Homo sapiens: one gene and its partners. The protein of the gene in region 2 purifies or fractionates together with the protein of the main gene of each other region. This does not show direct contact. Each region holds a gene or a part of one and is shown on either strand. Other genes may lie near its edges.

The links.
Region 1: the proteins of PTS (region 2) and SAR1B purify together in Homo sapiens (affinity purification with mass spectrometry; one large-scale study listed by BioGRID and IntAct). This does not show direct contact.
Region 3: the proteins of PTS (region 2) and WAPL purify together in Homo sapiens (affinity purification with mass spectrometry; one large-scale study listed by BioGRID and IntAct). This does not show direct contact.
Region 4: the proteins of PTS (region 2) and ZMYM6 purify together in Homo sapiens (affinity purification with mass spectrometry; one large-scale study listed by BioGRID and IntAct). This does not show direct contact.

Annotation. Positions count from the first base shown.
Region 1 is NC_000005.10:134,611,623-134,616,990, reverse strand, and holds part of SAR1B (small COPII coat GTPase SAR1B), read left to right. Parts: intron 1-3,958; exon of another isoform or gene 3,959-3,977; intron 3,978-4,234; coding exon 4,235-4,300; intron 4,301-5,368. UniProt on the Homo sapiens protein: Small GTPase that cycles between an active GTP-bound and an inactive GDP-bound state and mainly functions in vesicle-mediated endoplasmic reticulum (ER) to Golgi transport.
Region 2 is NC_000011.10:112,229,024-112,232,814, forward strand, and holds part of PTS (6-pyruvoyl tetrahydrobiopterin synthase), read left to right. Parts: intron 1-1,184; coding exon 1,185-1,207; intron 1,208-1,602; coding exon 1,603-1,659; intron 1,660-3,791. UniProt on the Homo sapiens protein: Involved in the biosynthesis of tetrahydrobiopterin, an essential cofactor of aromatic amino acid hydroxylases. Catalyzes the transformation of 7,8-dihydroneopterin triphosphate into 6-pyruvoyl tetrahydropterin.
Region 3 is NC_000010.11:86,434,793-86,440,160, reverse strand, and holds the end of WAPL (wings apart-like protein homolog), read left to right. Parts: intron 1-2,145; coding exon 2,146-2,241; intron 2,242-2,552; coding exon 2,553-2,618; 3' UTR 2,619-4,905; downstream 4,906-5,368. UniProt on the Homo sapiens protein: Regulator of sister chromatid cohesion in mitosis which negatively regulates cohesin association with chromatin. Involved in both sister chromatid cohesion during interphase and sister-chromatid resolution during early stages of mitosis.
Region 4 is NC_000001.11:35,007,017-35,012,384, reverse strand, and holds part of ZMYM6 (zinc finger MYM-type protein 6), read left to right. Parts: intron 1-379; coding exon 380-495; intron 496-1,348; coding exon 1,349-1,627; intron 1,628-1,787; coding exon 1,788-1,938; intron 1,939-3,460; coding exon 3,461-3,633; intron 3,634-5,286; coding exon 5,287-5,368. UniProt on the Homo sapiens protein: Plays a role in the regulation of cell morphology and cytoskeletal organization.

The DNA of each region.
Region 1 (5,368 bases), on a different chromosome or scaffold from region 2:
CAAAGTGCTGGGATTACAAGTGTGAGCCACCATACCCAGCCTATACTAATTTTATTTGTAATAGCCAAAAACTGGAAACACCTCAAATGTCCATCAAAAAGGAAATTGATAAATAATGGAATGCTACTTAGCAAGAAAGATGAATAAACCACTGATACATTCAGTCATATTATGCTACATGGCAGAAGCTGGTCATAAAAAGTTATCTACTGTATGATACCATTTATATGAAATTCTAGAACAGACAAAACTAACCTGTGGTGATAGAATTCAGATCAGTGGTTGCTTCCGGAGATGAAAATGGGGATTGACTGGGAAGGGGCTAGAGGAGACTTTCTGGGATGTTAACAGTGTTCTGTATCTTAAATAGCCTAATTCAGACTTCTTTTATAAAGCAGAAAGTATATTGGGGATTATTACCATAGAGGTGGTTTGCTAACTAAGCATTATCTTTTCCTTATGAACAGTGACTTTGAATATAGATTGTATTAAATATTTTATTCATTTGGCAATCTACACATAGAATTTCTTTCTTTCTTTTTTTTTTTTTTTTGAGACAAAGTCTCGCTCTTGTCCCCCAGGCTGGAGTGCAATGGTATGATCTCAGCTCACTGCAACCTCCACCTCCCGGGTTCAAGCGATTCTCTTGCCTCAGCCTCTCGAGTAGCTGGGATTACAGGAGCCTACCACCACTCCCGGCTAATTTTTGTATTTTTAGTAGAGACGGGATTTCACCATGTTTGCCAGGATGGTCTCGAACTCCTCACCTCAGGTGATCCGCCCCCCTCGGCCTTCCAAAGTGCTGGGATTACAGGCATGAGCCACCGTGTGCCCTGCCCTTTTTTTTTTTTTTTTTTTTCCGAGATGGAGTCTCGCTCTGTTGCCCAGGCTGGAGTGCAGTGGCCAGTCTCGGCTCACTGCAACCTCCGCCTGCCACATTCTCCTGTCTCAGCTTCCCTAGTAGCTAGGATTACAGGCATCTGCCACCACGCCTGGCTAATTTTTGTATTTTTAGTAGAGACGGGGTTTCACCACATTGGCCAGGCTGGTCTCAGAACTCCTGATGTCTCAAGTGATCCACCCGCCTCGGCCTCCCGAAGTGCTGGGATTAGAGGCATGAGCCACTGCACCTGGCCTACATACAGAATTTCTTTATTTATTATTGTTATTTTTTGAGACGGAGTCTTGCTCTGTCGCCCAGGCTAGAGTGCAGTGGTGCAATCTCGGCTCACTGCAAGCTCCGCCTCCCGCGTTCATGCCATTCTCCTGCCTCAGCCTCCTGAGTAGCTGGGACTACAGGCGCCTGCCACCACGCCCAGCTAATTTTTTGTATTTTTTTAGTAGAGACGGGGTTTCACCGTGTTAGCCAGGATGGTCTCGATCTCCTGACCTCGTGACCCACCCGCCTCAGCCTCCCAAAGTGCTGGGATTACAGGCGTGAGCCACCGCCCCCGGCCCAGAATTTCTTCTTATTTTCAGACAGAATCTCTCTCTGTTGCCCAGGCTGGAGTGCAATGGCGCAATCTCGGCTCACTGCAACCTCCGCCTCCTGGGTTCAAGTGATTCTCCTGCCTCAGCCTCCTGAGTAGCTGGGATTACAGGCACCTGCCACCATGCCTGGGTAATTTTTTTTTTTTTTTTTTGAGATGGAGTCTCGCTCTGTTCCCCAGGCTGGAGTGCAGTGGGGCAATCTCGGCTCATTGCAACCTCTGCCGCCAGGGTTCAAGCGATTCTCCTGCCTCAGCCTCCCTGGTAGCTGGGATTTCAGGCACCTGCCGCTGCACCCAGCTAATTTTTTGTATTTTTAGTAGAGACGGGGTTTCACCTCGTTAGCCAGGATGGTCTCGATCTCCTGACCTCGTGATCTGCCCATCTCGGCCTCCCAAAGTGCTGGGATTACAGGCGTGAGCCACCGCGCCCGGCCCCCAGAATTTCTTAAGAAGATAAAAACTCTGGGCTAAAGTAGCTACACTAAAACTTATGTTGTCATTATGGGGCACTTGTGCTTTTGGCCATAAGTGAGTACTGGTTCTGGAATTACCCTCCCACTGTACACAACTAGAAAACCGGACAAAAAAAGATGCTACAACTGTTTTCAGACATTGGGCAACAGCTACCACAGGACTGTGATTCCTGAGAGAAAGGAAACAACTCTATTTTGGTTTTATGCCAAGAGGTAATTTTCAGACCATGGTGCAAAGAGAGGACACCCAAACATAGTCCAATAGTCTTGCTGAGTTGAGGAGATGTAGACCAGAATTTGGAAAGGCCAACAGGACTAGAATTTTTTTGCTAGGACAGAGAGGAGGGAGTACCGGAGAGGAGGGACCTCTGGAGAGAAAGGACTCTAGAAATTTACATAGCTGAATACCAATCTGTGCATGCAATGGGTAAAGCTCCAAAAGGCTAGTCAAAGAACAATTGTAAGAATGCTGTTAGCCAAATAATTACTAGAGCTCTCATGGGGCCAGGAATTGTTGTTTAATCCCATTTAGCCTTCTAACAAATGTTAAAAACTGATCTGTAAGCAAGTGAACTGTCAGAACAAAATTCAACCTTCTTCAAAAGACTACAACAAAATCCAGCACTCAATATGAAATTACTAGACATGCAAAGAAACAGGAAAGTGATTCAGTCAGTAGAAACAGACACAAGTGTGACAAAGATGATGGAATTAGCAGATTAAGACATAAGACAATCGTTATGAATGTGCTCAGGGATTTAAAGGAAAACACAAACATGAGGAAAGAAATGGAAGATATAACACAGAATCAAATGAAACTTCTAGAAATGAAAAATACAGTATTTGAAATGAAAATTTCTTTTTTTTCTTTCTTTCTTTTTTTTAATAGAGACAGGGTCTCCCTGGGTTGCCCAGGCTGGTCTCGAACTCCTGGGCTCAAGTGATTCTCCCACCTTGGCCTCCCAAAGTCTGGGCTTACAGGTGTGAGCTACCATGCCCAGCCTGAAATGGAAATTTCACTGGATAGGATTAATAGTAAATTAGATAGTGCCAGTACTGCAGAAAGAAAGACCACTAAACTTAACTCAATGCAACAGAAACTCCAGAATGAAGCACAGAGAGAAAAGTGACTGAAAGCAAAATAAACAGAGCCTCAATGACTGGTGAGACAACATCAGGCAGTCTAACAAACCTGCAACTGAAGTCCCAGAAGTGGAAGGGAGGAGAAAGAAAGATAGTTATGGAAATAATGGCCACAATTTTTTATGGTAATTGTTTTTGTAATTAAAGACTGTCTTATGTCAGCCATAAGAGAAAATTATTTCACCTGTATCATTTAAGATGAATTATATGAACAATTATTAGATTGGAGCAGTTATTTGAATTCATAGCAAATAATTGTCTGAAGAGATTAACATTTTCAGCAGGAAGAATAGAGAAGGAAAAATAAATGTTGGATTTGTGGTGAGTAGAATACTAGAACTGAATATTACAATTATTTGTTATATTGTCAGTATGAATTGGTGTATATCTAATTACAAAAAAGTATTATTGTACCAGTTTGTAAATGTTTGATTTGACCTTATTTGCAATAAAAGTAAATCAAACATTAAGTAGTAAATATAAGCTATTGTTAGAAATGCTTGTTCCCTGGTGCTGTAAAGGATAGCACTTGAACATAAATTTAATTTCCTCAGCAAGGCCATTTTTACTTTCTGCAGAAAGGGTACACTTGCCAGCAGTTTTGCCACAAGAGTACACCGAACAAAGGAGACAGGGTCATTTATAATCTGATGCGTCCACCCTACTGCTGTGTCCGGTTTCCATTGGCTGGAATGGGACCTCACATTCTGTATTTGTCCTGATTGGCTAGCAACTTAGAACTTTTTAAAAGAGGCAAAGGCAGAGGAGAACAAAGGAAGGAGGAAGTAACTTGTGGAATGCTGAGAAAGGTAAAAACACCTTCAAATAAGGAAGAGGAACAGGCTATGACCTAATGCTTGCTTGGACCAGTGTAAGTATGCCAGGGCAAATATTTAGGCTAAATTGTGGGAGCTAAGAACATAAAGTACATTGATTTCTTTATTACGGCTGGCAGATATTTAAGAATGTTAGCACGGGTCTTTGAATCAATTTTGCTTCTAAGAGAAGTTACTATTTATTCTTAATTAGATGGGGAGGAAAGTCTTTGAAAAGGAACCTCTACTTTACTTTTTACACGATTAATGGGTTTCTAATTTTCATGTAAAAATATTTTAAAATCTTATTTAGCTTCCGAAGAACTGACCATTGCTGGCATGACGTTTACAACTTTTGATCTGGGTGGACATGTTCAAGGTAAGATTCTTTTTTTTTTTTTTTTTTTTTTTTTTTTTTTTTTTTTTTTAGACAGGCTCACTCTGTCTCCCAGGCTGGAGTGCAGTGGTGCAATCTCAGCTCACTGCAACCTCTGCCTCCTGGGTTCAAGCAATCCTCATGCCTCAGCCTCCCCAATAGCTGGGATTACAGGCATGTGCCACCGCGCCCAGCTGATTTTTGTATTCTTAGTAGAGATGGGATTTCGCCACGTTCAAGGTAAGATTCTCTTACTCTTACAGTCACTTTGTTTTATTTTAACTTAACAAAAATGTGGCCATTAGTTCTAGTGCATGAAATCTCATTCTAGTCACGCAAGGCCAGAGTAGATTTAAAATTTAGGGATTATTACTCCCCGATAAATACTTTAAAAGCAAAGGGTGATTTTCATGATACTTCTGGCCAATTCAAATGAGAATTGCTTTTGGTGGTAAAGTGTATGAGTAAAATTAACTTCCATTCTCTCTACTTCAATCTACCTCTCACTGTCATAATCATGTTTTGAACATGTTACTGCTCTGTAAAACAAAAACAAAACAAAACAAAACAAAAAAACCTTCAGTGGCTAACTCATTACTTACAAAATAAAGGCCAAACTCATTAACCTGGCATTCAGGATCTCTATGATCTGGTCCCAGTTTACTTTTCTGGGCTTTTAAAAATTATCTTATAGAGACAGGGTCTCACTCACTATGTTGCCCAGGCTTGTCTCCAACTCCTGGGCTCAAGCAATCCTCTCATCTCAGTCTCCCAAAAGTTGGGATTATAGGTGTGAGCCACCACATCTGGCCTACTTTTCTTTTATTTCCCTCTATTCCCCTTCCCGTTCTTTTTGCTTCAACCAAATCAGACCTTCTTGGTGTTTTCCTCTGTGCTTTTGTTCATGCCATCCCCATCCGCACATGAGTAACCCCTTTAGGCCCCAGCGTATGCCCTGCTACCTCCCTTGGGAAGCCATTCTCAGTTGGAGTGCTCTCAGCTATACTTCATAGCACTTAGTATATTTGTGTACATGTCTACAACAAGTTTGGAAAGACTGCCTTATCTCTT
Region 2 (3,791 bases):
TGTTGCCTAGGAATGTAATGTATGGCAGAAAAATAGGTTTGGTCTAAAGCTTTGCCAGCAGTGTTCGAAGAAAGTAGGTAATTTGTTCAAGGATAAGAGACTTGATTCTTTGAGGTACAGCCTGCCTTAAAAAACAGGTACATAAGTCGTAGAGTATAAAACAGTATGTGGTGTGGTGGCATAAAAAAAAACAGACAAGGTGTCAGGAGATTAGGATTACTGGTTTAGCTACAGCCTCTTCCTTAATCTATGGTATCTCAGTCTCAGTGTACTCACTTACATGTAATATCTAATGGTATTTGTACAGAACTAAAATACATAAATTCATAAAAGTTATTAATGTGTAAAGCACTGATAAAGTTTTTTTTTGTTGTTGTTGTTTTTTTTTTTGAGATGGAGTTCCACTCTTTTTGCCCAGGCTGGAATGGTGTGATCTCCCGTCACTACAACCTCCACCTCCCAGGTTCGAGCGATTCTCCAGCCTCAGCCTCCCGAGTAGCTGAGATTACAGGCGCCCGCCACTATGCCTGGCTAATTTTTGTATTTTTAGTAGAGATGGGGTTTCACCATGTTGGCCAGGCTGCTCTCAAACTCCAGACCTCAGGTGATCTGCCCGCCTCGGCCTCCCGAAGTGCTGGGATTACAGGCTTGAGCCACCACGCCTGGCCAAGATTTTTCAAATGCTTCTCACAAGCACTTTTTAATTTACAAAGCATTACTTTAGACTTTGTATACATTCATGTGAGTAAGGGGACAAGAATTTAAGGCCCAGTAGTATTGCTTGTTCAGAAAGGTACTGCTCAGTATTGGACCAGCTTGCTGTGTAGCTGGACACCTGAAAGACATTTTCTACTTCTACAGGCAGAGACTGAGCAGCATCTTGATGCTCCCTAGTGCATTAACATAAGCAGAATTTACACCCTTTTCAGCCTTGGCCGAGTGCCTCTGCTTAGCCAACATTCCTACTAAGCTCCTTTGTCTCGATTGTGTCTTGCTTTGGTTGCTAAAAAAAAAATCTTAACTAAAATAACAGATGTTTTGGGGTAAATATTTAAGTATAGCTTTTGGGGACAGATCTAATAATTTATGTTGCCAACTTGTGCTTGTATGTTGCTAACTTGTGCTTGGATGTTGATCTGTTGAAAGTCATGCTGTTTTTTTTGTATTTTGTTTTCTTTCCATAGTTGTGGTGACAGTACATGGAGAGGTATGTGCAGAAAATATTTGTGTGGTTTTTGCAGATTGCTGGGCTCTCTTTCAGCCAGTGTGGTGGATTCTGTGTTGAAAACTGTTCCAGTCAGTATTGCTTCATTGTTGGCCCTTGTATATGTGTGTGTGGTGAGCTGCCGCCATTCCAGGCCTCTCCTCTACCAAAGTGTTGTCTTTAATATGCTGTATGTGGACAGGTAGAAGGGCTATACAATGAAAAGGATGCTTGAAGTACATGGTGCTTCCATGCTGAGGTCAATGATTATCTCTGGGATGAAGGCAAATGTGCAAATGTGGGCACAGTCTCTGCACATTGTACTGCCTTTAATAATTTGCCAGCCGTTTAATATGGAGAGCCTATCACAGTAATATTCACCTTTGTTTATTCTTTAGATTGACCCTGCTACGGGAATGGTTATGAATCTGGCTGATCTCAAAAAATATATGGAGGTAATGGCATGTTGGGTGCTTATTATGTGCTATTCCCTAACTGTAATATTTGGTGGCCCCCTATCTACCTCCCCAACCAGTTATCTCCTAAGGTTCCATGACTTTGTGAATAGAACTGGATGTGGGTGTTGGGGAATAGTTGGAAGAACTGCTCGCATGGCCTCTAAAGGTGTTTTGGTGACTTAACGGAAATTAGTCACAGTTGTGTTACAGCGATGGGAGGAAATATAACATGCTCACCTTGTATTCCTTGTTGGAATATCCTGATTTCCTTCAGTTAACAAATTCTCCATTTCTTTTAAGACATAGCTTTCTCCTTGAGACTTACTGTCTTTCTTTTTTTTTTTTTTTTTAAATAGGCACAGAACCAATGCAAACTTTTCTTTTTGGTAGAGGTAGGGGTCTCACTATGTTGTTCAGGCTGGTCTCAGACACCTCCTGCCTTGACCTCCCAAAGTGCTGGAATTACAGGCATGAGCTACTGCTCCTGGCCTTCTCCTTGGAGCTTTCTCTTCCCTCTCTGAATATTCCTTGTACCTTTGATCATAGATTTAGACACCACACTGTGTTGTTCATTCTAGCTTTATTATAAACTCACCAGAGCAGTACCTCATAGAGATAACACACAAGGTGTTCAATGAAGAACTTAACTGATTGTGTCATTATAGAATTCTTGCACTGTAAGAGACTTTGGAGATTATTCAGACCAACTTCTTCAACCCATAGATTAAGATTGAGAGATGCTGAACAGTTAACTGACTTGCCCCAGGTCATATGGCTAGTCATTTGCAAAGCTGGGAGTAGATTTCTTTCCTTCCAGCTGTTTTATTATGCTGTCATTTCACTTGCAGCTTAGGTTTGTTCTGAGATTTGACATTTGCTTGATTAAAATGATGTTATTAGTAATGATTACTTCTTTCACATTACTTATTCATATATTCAACAAATTTCTCTACTTCGCATCAGTTTTTGAGCTAAGTGTACAAAGATGAATGAGATGTAGCCCACAGAGTGTATACATTACTTTTTCTAGGAGGTGAAGAATATTATTAAATAACTGTTGATTTAATAAATGAGTAGAAGAATGAGTGAATGAAGAAACAGCACTATGCTCAAAATACTTTAGGAAAGTTATACAGATAGGGCCAGCATGCATTTATGGGGCAGGGGTTGGGGGGCAGGCGGAGAGAGAGAGAGAGGGAGACAGAGACAGGAGAAGAGGAGGGGGAGGGGAGGACAGGGGAGGAGAGGGGAGGGGAAAGAAAGAAAAAGAAAAAGAGAAAAGAAAAGAAAAGAAAGAAAAGAGACAAGACAGCAACATAAAAGGCCTCAACATATGACTAAATACTGGAGGAGGGCTTCTCTATGCTGTTTTCTGCTTTTGTATGCCTGAAGGACACCACACACTTTCATCAGTAAAAGTGGCTTATCATGGCATGTAGAGTAAAGTTAGAGCTCTACCGTGGGGGGAGGATTGCTTGAGTCCAGGAGTTCAAGGCTGCAGTGAGCTATGATTATGCCACTTGCACTCCAGCCTGGATGACAGAGACCCTGTCTCTAAAAACAAAACAAAAGAAAACAAAAAGCCCTGCATAAGAGGCTTTAATGGAGAAATTGGGACTGGAACTGGGATTGAAGATGAAGCAAGGATGCCCGTTTTCTTGTTATTCATGTGGAACATCCCTTCATTGGATATATTTCAATAACTGTTTGATCTAGGACTTACTCTTTTTGTATGATTCTAGTTTTTCTCAAGAAATGATTGCTGTTACTGTTATTAATGTACCCTTCTTCAAACTACGTCCTATGGAAAATTACATTTTTTTTTCACAGATGCTTAGATTTTTTGCAATAGCTAAAAGCAAAAACCTAGAAAGAATGAGGCAATTTAATCCTTGCTGATGATGAGGAAAAACATTATGTTAATATACACGAGCATTAGGGAGTAATAGTCTTTACATATATATATTTTTCCTTCTATGAGCCCAAGATCATTCTTAAATTATTCCTCATAGCAAAAATTTAGAACTACTTACATAATTTCAGTCTAGGTCTGCTTTATAAAATGTAGTAGTCACTGGATCTTTGTCCTTATGATATTGTGGCATTGTTCCGTAGGTGTGACAGTGTTA
Region 3 (5,368 bases), on a different chromosome or scaffold from region 2:
TATCTTGGGCCATCTTTCCCATGCTAATTCCTATTTGTGTTTGCCTGTATCTATCTTGTCTCTAAAAAGAGAATGTTCTTAAATTGTGGGAAATGTTGTGAATTCATAGAGCCCCAGATTTATTTGTTGCCTTGGAGATTATTATGATTAACACCAAAAAGCTAGCTGATACCACAAAATGTAAAGGAAGTTTGGTTTACCTAATGTGTAAGTGAAAAGAGATAGACAAGAAAGCATGTGGTTGTTGCAGTAAATGCTGCTTTGTGGTCTGATCCCATTTTCACTTGCCCTCCATGTCTTCTCACTTTGCAGCTGGTGCATTGCAGTGGTCAGTCTCCTCACTGCTCTTCCTGCTTTGTTGCCCCTCCATTCCTGGGACATTGCACATTGCCACTGGAGCTAACTTACTTCAGAGCACTTACTGATCACGTAGCTCCTTGCCCAGTCTTCCTTGGCTCACAGCCAGGAAGGGGACTCATGACTGTTTAGTGTTGCAAGACCCTGGACTTAAGACTGCTTCTCCAATTTCCAAACCTACTGGACACTTTTAAAATTTTTCAAATAGGCCATGCTGTATCATGCCTTTTCTTTTTGTACCTGCTATATTCTGTTAAAAAATGCTGTCACTGTCCCTCCCATTGCCTCAGAAACGCTGTATGTCATGTTCTGTAGTGTGTTGATAGAGAAGGGTTTGATTTGGATTAATGAGGGGCTTTCATCCAAAATATAGGAGCTAATCATATATTCTCTATTACAGAGGCGTACTTTTCTACTGAGCAGTTCTCCAGAGACACCTTAGCCACTATTTTGCCCACCACTGTGATAGCTTTTGGTGGGAGGATCAGTTTGAATGTGTGTAACTGATATCTTCAGCACATGAGTACTTTAGCAGTGTTTTGATTAGATCTTTTCTGAAGCTGTATTCATCTCATTTTTTTGCTGCTTTCTAATTTTGCGAGTACCCTGGCATGGGAATAGGAAAAAGGGGGTGGGTAGTGGCAAATTTCTGAAGAGAAATATGTCATCTCTCCTTTTTTGCCCCCGCTAACAAAAGTCGAATTGGGAGCTTTTGTGTGTTTTCTTTTTGTTTTTTGGTTGGTTTTGTTTAACCCTTTACCTTGTGTCCCCAAACTTGGGACAGTATACTTTCTTTTGCCCCTTACTACAGGTGAACCTTCCTAAAAGATTTTTTCTTTTTATTCTCCGTAAAACATTTAAAGCATTCTTTAATGAAATAGTTTTTTAAGCAGGTTGTGTAATGTTTTCCATGTAACAGATTGGTTTATATATAGTTTGGCTGCTTCTTGCTAATAATGAAGGGTTTTCTCTCCTGATATTGTCTGAGAATCTATCATAGATGAGGTTAGATTGCCTTTGGAAAGATGCTTCTAGTTAATTCCTGTCCTATATAATTAGTTGAATTCATCTGTGAAGGATGTGAATTTTTCTTTGATCTTTTTATTTCATGAGCAGCTTTGTGAGTACATTCTCAGGTCTAAAGTCCTCACCCTCTTCTCCTATTCCCCCAGGGCCCCCAGTGAAACACACACATACATTAAACAGTGCAGTTTGTTATTTCAGGCCTTTTTCTTTGCATTTATGAAAGTAGGTCGGCATGCTGCCTCACACCTGTAATTCCAGCACTTTGGGAGGCCAAGGTGCGTGGATTACTTGAGCCCAGGAGCTCGAGACCAGCCTGGCCAACATGATGAAACCACGTCTCTGCTAAAAATACAAAAATTAGCCAGGCATGGTGGCACGTGCCTTTAATCCCGGCTACCCGGGAGGCTGAGGCATGGGAATCACTTGAACCCAGGAGGTAGAGGTTGCAGTGAGCTGAGATTACACCACTGCACTCCAGCCTGGGTAACAGAGTGACTGTTTCATTTAAAAAAAAAAAAAAAAAAGTAAATGTGTACACAAATATTTCTTTGTAGCTTTTGCCAACTTTACCTTTCTCCTTTCTTTCTGAGGGTGAGGTAGGAAATCACATGCAGAGTGAGTGTGGAAAGAGAATAAATAACCACGTGTTCCAAGGATCTTAAAAATTTGCACCAAGATGTGTGTCAAAACCAACAACATTGTACGAGGTGCAATCTCATGTTTTCTGCCAGCTGACCAATATTTCTTGCTCTGTTTCCTCAGATCAATGTAACCACTGTGCGGGAATATCTGCCAGAAGGAGACTTTTCAATAATGACAGAGATGCTCAAAAAATTTTTGAGTTTTATGAATCTCACTGTAAGTAGCTTTTATTACAGCTTATATGATTTTAAATTTATAATACATTGACAGTAGACATAAAAATACTATGGCCATAGTAAGTGGGAGCAAAAAGGGATTTTCTTTTAATTTTAATAATCGTGTTCTATTTCTTCAAGGTAATCATTGCATGTTATGGCAAATAACTTTATCAAACCCACAATTTAATCTCGGTGTACTTTGATTTGTAGTGTTCAGTTTAGTAAATCTAGAGGTAAACTTTTATTTATACTTCTTAAAATCTGTTAAATATTAACTGTTACTTCCTTTCCCCTTCACCCTGCTTTCAGTGTGCTGTTGGAACAACTGGCCAGAAATCTATCTCTAGAGTGATTGAATATTTGGAACATTGCTAGCTGCTTTACCTTTGCTTCAGGTGCTCGGTAATGCTGGAGCTATCCTTAGACAAAGAAAAGTCAAGTCATGAAAGAAGTCCTTGAAGATATACCAAGAACATTCATCAGTATCATTCGTGTTTGGATTTTTAAGGCCACCTGATTTCTTCGTCATGCATTCGGCATTTGCTAAATGACAGTTACTACATCAATCTGCAACTATCAAAAATGAGGGGAAAAGGTTCAGGCTGTTAACAATTCCATGCAGTATTTAAATACATTTACTTTGGCAGAGTTTATACCCTCCCCTTGTTTTCTTGCTTTATTCTGGGCAAGTTTGAAGGGGAAAATTTGTGCTGCTGTTAGTGCAACTGCTGTGTATGTTGAGCCACTGTTGTCATGCCAGCCAGGTGCAAAGGCAGCTTAGCTACTGAGGTAGCGAATGTTCTGAGGACATTCTAGACAACAGCTTAGTTCCTTTTTCAGGCTCATTTGCTTTTGCTTTTTTGTTGAATGATTCCAATCGTAAATAAAGCTTTTAATAATTTTGTGAATTTTTTGGTTGTTGTTCCCTGAACTACTGTCTATATTTAAAATTAGATGGAATCCAAAGATACACGGGATTAATAGTATATTTTTTTATTCTTGATTAGGTTTGGGTTATTGAACTATTTTTTACTTTTGAGACCACAACCATATTCAATATCATACCATAATGTGTCATAGCTATAGGCACAAGAAAAACAACAGTTTGAGAGAATATTATATAAGATGATGTGCCCTGTTAAAAGGAGGAGGCAAAATAGTCAAACCCAGGGTAGTTTACACTTAATGCTAGGGAGGCTCTTAAAACATTATTAGATTTTGAGGAAAGACTCTCTAGATATATTTTCTAATGTTCAGTACAATAAATATAAGGAAGCTAAAACACCAATGTGGAATTCCTGTTTCCAGATAACATGTATATTCTTCTATAGAGTGACAGGATCAATTGCATAAGCGCAAAGCCTTAAATTGCTGGTTTAGAGAAGACCCTTTTTTCATTCAGATTCTTTGTTCGTAGAGCAGTTATTTGAAAAACAGTTATGGAACACAAAACATTTTATAGATTTAATATCATAACATTGCAAATTTTTCTTGTATTATTCACACCACTGGTTATACTTTTTTTTTTCCTTTTTTATTGATTGGGCCTGAATACAGGCTTTCTAGAGATCTTTTTCATTAATACTTTTAAATACCTTTCAGGTAGTTACATCATGTTTCTTCATTGGATTTGTAAAACTTGAAGCCATAAAAATATTAGTTTGGTGTGTATTGGGGAAAATAGCTAAAAGTCTAATTTTTACCCATTTAGACTTTGTTATTTCCTTGTATAAAGTGACAAATCGGGGCTCTTGTATCAGTGCCAGCTGTAATGTTTTTAAATGCAGTGGCTGCCTTCTATTGTCTTCCTATTTTTGATAATGCAGATTGTTGGGAAATCTGTAAGGAAGTAACTGATTCCAGGCAAATTGTTTTCTTCCTTCTACCCACCCCAACCCCTACCCATCACCTTTTAAGAACATAGTACGCCAGTGTAACGTGGGAACCATTGAGATTGTATTTGCCCTGAGTATTAAAGCTAGCTTAGCAAAATACTTTTAAAAACATATTGGTAAATGATACCCGTAAAATTAAATTAGTTATATTTTATTTTAAAATGCAAAATACATTGATATTTATTAATCATTGGATTTAGGGAAAGGGACAGATTTTTGGTGAACCTGACTTGTGGCAGATGGTAAGGAATATTATAAAACATTTGGATGAGAACAATCAGGGCGAACTGCATTTTTCTGTTACACTGGTAATCATTTGAAAATTGATTTACCTCAGTGTTTAACAGTTTTTTGTTTTGTTTTGTTTTTTAAATAATAACTAATTGTCGAGCACTGATAGAGATGCAGATTTTGGTGGGGGGAGGTGGTGGGGGAGATAATCACTTCACCAACTGCAGTGCATTTGTGTGTTTTTAACCCTCAGAGAACTCTGCATTTTAGGGTACTTGAGGCTGACTTAACTAAAAGTTTTAAAGTAACCTTTTTTCCATTGTAAATATTTCTGTAAATACTACCAATTGGAAATTAGAACAGTAGAGTACTTTTCTGAATCCAATCCTATTTTTATTTTATACAGTATTTCTCAGCTGTGATCTTTGGAGCAAAAGCCAACGGCAGGAAAAAATAGTTTGTACCAGTTTCATGAAGTATGTCTTTGGGTTTTTGTAAATAATTTTAACTCAAATAAAATTGCTACTTTCAATACACATGTTGTCTTTAACATAAGTCTATTGGAGGACAGAAGTGTCACAAACTTTATATATAGCCGACTCTAATGGGAAATACACTATCACTTAACACATTTAACCAGTTTTTGTTAAATATTTTATTATTTCTCCATGTTTTTAATAATACTCATCTGAATATAATGTGAACTCAACAACTCAGGCCAATTAGGGACTGGATTTTCAGTTAGGCCCTTGGCATACTTAACTGTTTTGATTTAGGTTATTTTTTGCTCCTATGAGTATGATCCAAGACATCTTTGCTTCTGAGGTTTTACACTGCTTTTTAGTTTTTCAGTTTTCTTCTTAATTGTCAGCCCTTAGGCATCCTGCATTTACAAGTAGATTCCTCAACTTCTCCTTACTGCTTTTAGCCACAAAACTAGATTGAAGGATCTCTCCTGGGAGTTTCCATTACTCTCCCCACTTAAACATGAGTAAGAGT
Region 4 (5,368 bases), on a different chromosome or scaffold from region 2:
AAAAACGTAACTGCTTTTCTCTGATTTTGTTACAAGCTAAATTTATCTATTTAGTTAAATAAAAACCCAAGACTGACTTTTAAATAACTGACTTTTATGTGAAAATAGTTTTTCCCCGATTTTCTTGGTTGCAATATATACAGTATTTTATAATTTCATATGTGAGAGGAAAGAAAAAACACTTAAAATTTCCAAGTTAGTTTTTGTGTAAGTGGGACTTAATAGAGGTTAGTTGTGGTTAGATTTCAGATTTTTATAAAGTTCCTTGATTTTTTTGGTATATTATTGATTATTTAATTTTTTCATTCTCCCAATACATTTTTGTATTGTTTGTTCATTGGTATAACTTAATCATTGTTTTTAATTTTTTGTCACCAAGGTGTCCAGGTTTCATGTCATAGTTGTAAAACCTCAGCAATCCCTCAGTATCACCTAGCCATGTCAAATGGAACTATATACAGCTTCTGCAGCTCCAGTTGTGTGGTTGCTTTCCAGGTATGATCTAAGGTAGCACATTATGCATGTGGTTCTGTTAGGCATCGATCTGTGGCACAGTGTTAACTGCTGAAGGCCTGTTCTTATGAAAGTTTAAATTTGAATTAAAAAGAAAAAAATTTGTTTCATCCAGGGGCCCAACCAGGTCATTTCTACAAAATATCTGAACCCAGATATTGGGTCTCAGCAGTTTCTTCTTTATTTAGGATCCTAGCCTAAACTGTCATTCCCTCCCACTTTCTCCCTTGGGTCTCTCCCCTTCAAAAAGATGGAAGCTAGGATTGTGGTTTGGGTAGGTGGTATGGTGAAGAACAGTAGCCTGATGGGATTCACATACCCCTTCCTCTCATCCTGTGTCAGAAACACAGTGACTCCTGGCATGGAATTGTAAGCATCCACTTGTCCCATTTTCTCCTCCCTCTCTGCAATACATACACAAAGAGTAGAGTTTAGTAATCTCCAGGGTAGGAACATGCCTGATGTAGTATCCCTGGCATTAGGGAGAAAGAGACTGCTGGTAGCTATTGTGTCGTAGTAGCCATCAGAAGCTGGTTGATGATGGGAGTGCAGGTAGGGGGAAGTTTTAGGGGGAAGGAGAGGCCTGCTCTAATTTATTAGAGGCATATACTGGAGGTCTTTGTCAGGAAAGCCTGAATTCCAGTCCTTGACCTTTTAATGTTGTATTTCTCAGTCCTTTTATTCTGGAAATATACCATTTAAACTCTTTCTGTGAGATAGAAAATTTTAAAAAATGTTTGTGGGAGACTTGATTTATTAAAATGAGGAAATGAAAAGTACAAAGTTATCTTATTTCTCAGTTGATAAAATCTTTACCTTATTTGTTTTCATTCAGAATGTATTTAGCAAGCCAAAAGGAACAAACTCTTCGGCGGTGCCCCTGTCTCAGGGCCAAGTGGTTGTAAGCCCGCCCTCCTCCAGGTCAGCAGTGTCAATAGGAGGAGGTAACACCTCTGCCGTTTCCCCCAGCTCCATCCGTGGCTCTGCTGCAGCCAGCCTCCAACCTCTTGCTGAACAATCCCAGCAAGTTGCTTTAACCCATACAGTTGTTAAACTCAAGTGTCAGCACTGTAACCATCTATTTGCCACAAAACCAGAACTTCTTTTTTACAAGGTAAAGAGAGATCATGAAAGGGATTGTATATAAACTCATCCAGTAGAAACACTTTTGTGTTTTCAATTTTGATCACTCAATTTGCTTTGACATGAAAAGGAGTTCTTAAAGATAAAGCAACTGTTTAGTTGGCTCTTAATGGACTGTTGTTTCTCTGCAGGGTAAAATGTTTCTGTTTTGTGGCAAGAATTGCTCTGATGAATACAAGAAGAAAAATAAAGTTGTGGCAATGTGTGACTACTGTAAACTGCAGAAAATTATAAAGGAGACTGTGCGATTCTCAGGGGTTGATAAGCCATTCTGTAGTGAAGGTAAAGACAAAGTTGTTTTATTCACAGAGCATGGGTTGTTATAATTCATGACGACTTGGGCAATTAAGCCATGATTAGTTTTCACATTCTTTTTGTCTTACAAGGTGTAATTAGAAGTATTTTGGAGGCCGGGCATGGAGGCTCACGCCTGTAATCCCAGCATTTTGGGAGGCTGAGGTGGGTGGATCACTTGAGGTTGGGAGTTCAAGACCAGCCTGACCAACATGGTGAAACCCCATCTCTGTTAAAAAACACCGTCTCTATACAAAATTAGCCGGGCATGGTGCCGCACGCCTGTAATCCCAGCTACTTGGGAGCCTGAGGCAGGAGAATTGCATGAACCTCAGAGGCAGAGGTTGCAGTGAGCTGAGATCATGCCATTGCACTGCAGCCTGGGCGACGAGCGAAACTCTTGTCTCCAAAAAAAAAAAGGTTTTTTTGAATTGTGTTTATAGTTAATTCACTTTAAAGTCAATCTTTTTATTTATTATTTTTGTTTGTTTATTTTTTTGAGACAAGGTCTTGCCCTGTCACTCAGGCTGGAGTGTGGTGGCATGATCTTGGCTTATTGCAGTCTCTGCCTCCCCGGTTTAAGGGATCCTCCCACTTCAGCCTCCCAAGTAGCTGAAGCTACAGGAGCGTGCCACCATGCCTGGCTAATTTTTTTTATTTTTGGTAGAGACGGGGGGTTTCACCATGTTTCCCAGGCTGGTCTTGAACTCCTGAGCTCAGGTGGTACTCCTGCCTCGGCCTCCCAAAGTGCTGGGATTATAGGCGTGAGCGACTGTGCCTGGCTGAAAGTCAGTCTTTTTAAATGTTGCAGTAATTGCAATAAAAAACTGTAAAAATGATTACATCAGTGGTATTAATAAAGAAAATCTCTTCATAAGTTTAGCTATGACATCAGAGATCTTTTTGTTCTTGCACTCATTTGCGAAGAGGAACTTAAAACAGTTGCTGCTTCTTGGCTTAAAAAACTTTTATACCTCTAATGTTTCTGAATATAAATGGCCTAATATTTAGAGTATATTTAAAAGGTGGTGGCAGGGCGCAGTGGCTCACGCCTGTATTCCCAGCACTTTGGGAGGCCAAGGCGAGCCAGATCACCTGAGGTCAGGAGTTTGAGACCAGCCTGGCCAACATGGCGAAATGCCATCTCTACTAAAAATACAAAAATTAGCTGGGTGTGGTGGCAGGTACCTGTAATCCCAGCTGCTCTACTCAGGAGGCTGAGGCAGGAGAATCGTTTGAACCTGGGAGGCAGAGGTTGCAGTGAGCTGAGATTGTGCCACTGCACTCCAGCCTGGGCAAAACGAGTGAGACTCTGTCTCAAAAAATAAAATAAAATAAAAGGTGGTATGAGTTTGGTTTGTGAATATAGAGACTGTCCTGTAATCTAGAGGCAAATAATTGTGTATTAGAAATTAGCTTAAAGTTTCATATCTAAGACCACAGAAACTTATTATACCTCCTCAGTTAATGTAAATTTGATTTTTCTTCCTTTCATCCCTCTGATCCTCAGTTTGCAAATTCCTCTCTGCCCGTGACTTTGGAGAACGATGGGGAAACTACTGTAAGATGTGCAGCTACTGTTCACAGACATCCCCAAATTTGGTAGAAAATCGATTGGAGGGCAAGTTAGAAGAGTTTTGTTGTGAAGATTGTATGTCCAAATTTACAGTTCTGTTTTATCAGGTAAATGTGATAATATACTTTTTTTGGCTTTCTGAAATCAGTGCAAATTGTTTTTATTTAAAATGTATTCAAATTATGTGAAGAAAAATTTGGTGTTTAGCACTGGATAAAATAAGTTATGGGCTATAATAGAAAAATTCAATTGAATATAAACAGGAAATCTTTGGGATAAAAAGTATAGGATTTCTGCAGACTTTGTTGTTGGTTGGATATGTTCCTTTTATTTTTGCCTTCTTATGAGGCACTTTGCCCTTATTTGACTTCTTTCAGGTTAGAACTTCACATAATGTTGCCTGAAGTGGCTCTCTCATTCAGGTTACTCTGAGGAATTTGAAGTTAGACCTTGTCTCACTTCATAGGTCAAAGGACAATAGCTGGCAACCATTCCTACCTCATTTTTAAAAAGATTAACTTTTTGAAAGGCTAACAATGGTAGCTACAGTTAATTGAACCACTAATACATGTCTGGTGCTCTGTAAGTGTCATTTCATTTAATCCTTACCATAGTCCCAAGAGGTAAGTATATTACTGCCATTTTATAAATAAGGAAAAGGAGAGAGGTCCAGGGAAGTTAAGTAATATGCTCTTGAGGAAGCTGGTAGGTGACAGCAAGACAGCATCTATAACACTCTGGTAAATCACTGTTTGTTTTTCTACCTCTAAAAAAATAGAATTTTATTGTTGGGGGAGGGTAATATATTTTTCATGATTATATAATTAGGGCCAATCACAGTGCTTAAGACAAAGGATGTCTAATTAAATATTTGCTGAATGAATCAAAATCTTTATGACTCCAAAGCCCATATTATATCAACTACTGTAAGCTGCTGCTTAATTTTTTAGAAGTTGAACCTATCTTTATTTTTTTTTTACTTACTTTTTTCATTGTGTATCTTTTCTTCCCCCATCCCACCTGCCCACCCCCCATCCCCCAGCCAGACAGAATCTTGTTCTATTGCTCAGGCTGGTGTGCAGTGGCGTGATCAGTGGGCGATGTTGGCTCCCTGTAGCCTCTGCCTCCTGGGTTCAAGTGATTCTCCTGCCTCAGCCTCCCGAGTAACCAGGAGAGGTGGGCACCACCATGCCCAGTTATGAACCTATCTTTAGATAGATTCCCTTATTGGTAATTTTGAAAACAGAAGAGCATTTTTTTTTTTTTCTATTGAGACAGAGTCTTACTCTGTCACCCAGGCTGGAGTGCAGTGACGCGATCTCGGCTCACTGCAACCTCTGCCTCCTGGATTCAAGCGATTATCTTACCTCAGCCTTCTAAGTAGCTGGGATTACAGGCGTGCGCCACCACACCTGGCTAATTTTTGTACTTTAGTAGATACGGGGTTTCACCATGTTGGTCAGGCTGGTCTTGAACTCCTGACCTCATGATCCGCCCACCTCGGCCTCCTAAAATGCTGGGATTACAGGCGTGATCCCACAATTACCGTGCCTGGCCACAGTTTTTATATTATCTTGATTTAGGGCATCTATATAAAACAAATAATTAAATAAAATCAGTATTTTAAGGTAAGAACCTTACATTTTGTAGTCTCAACTGACTCATATATCCTGTTTTCGTAGTCCCTCTTTTTATGATTAATGTTATCTTTTCATTATTTTATAGTTTTAAGCCTATCTTGTCTAACATTTCTTTTTCAGATGGCCAAGTGTGATGGTTGTAAACGACAGGGTAAACTAAGCGAGTCCATAAAGTGGCGAGGCAACATTAAACATTTCTGTA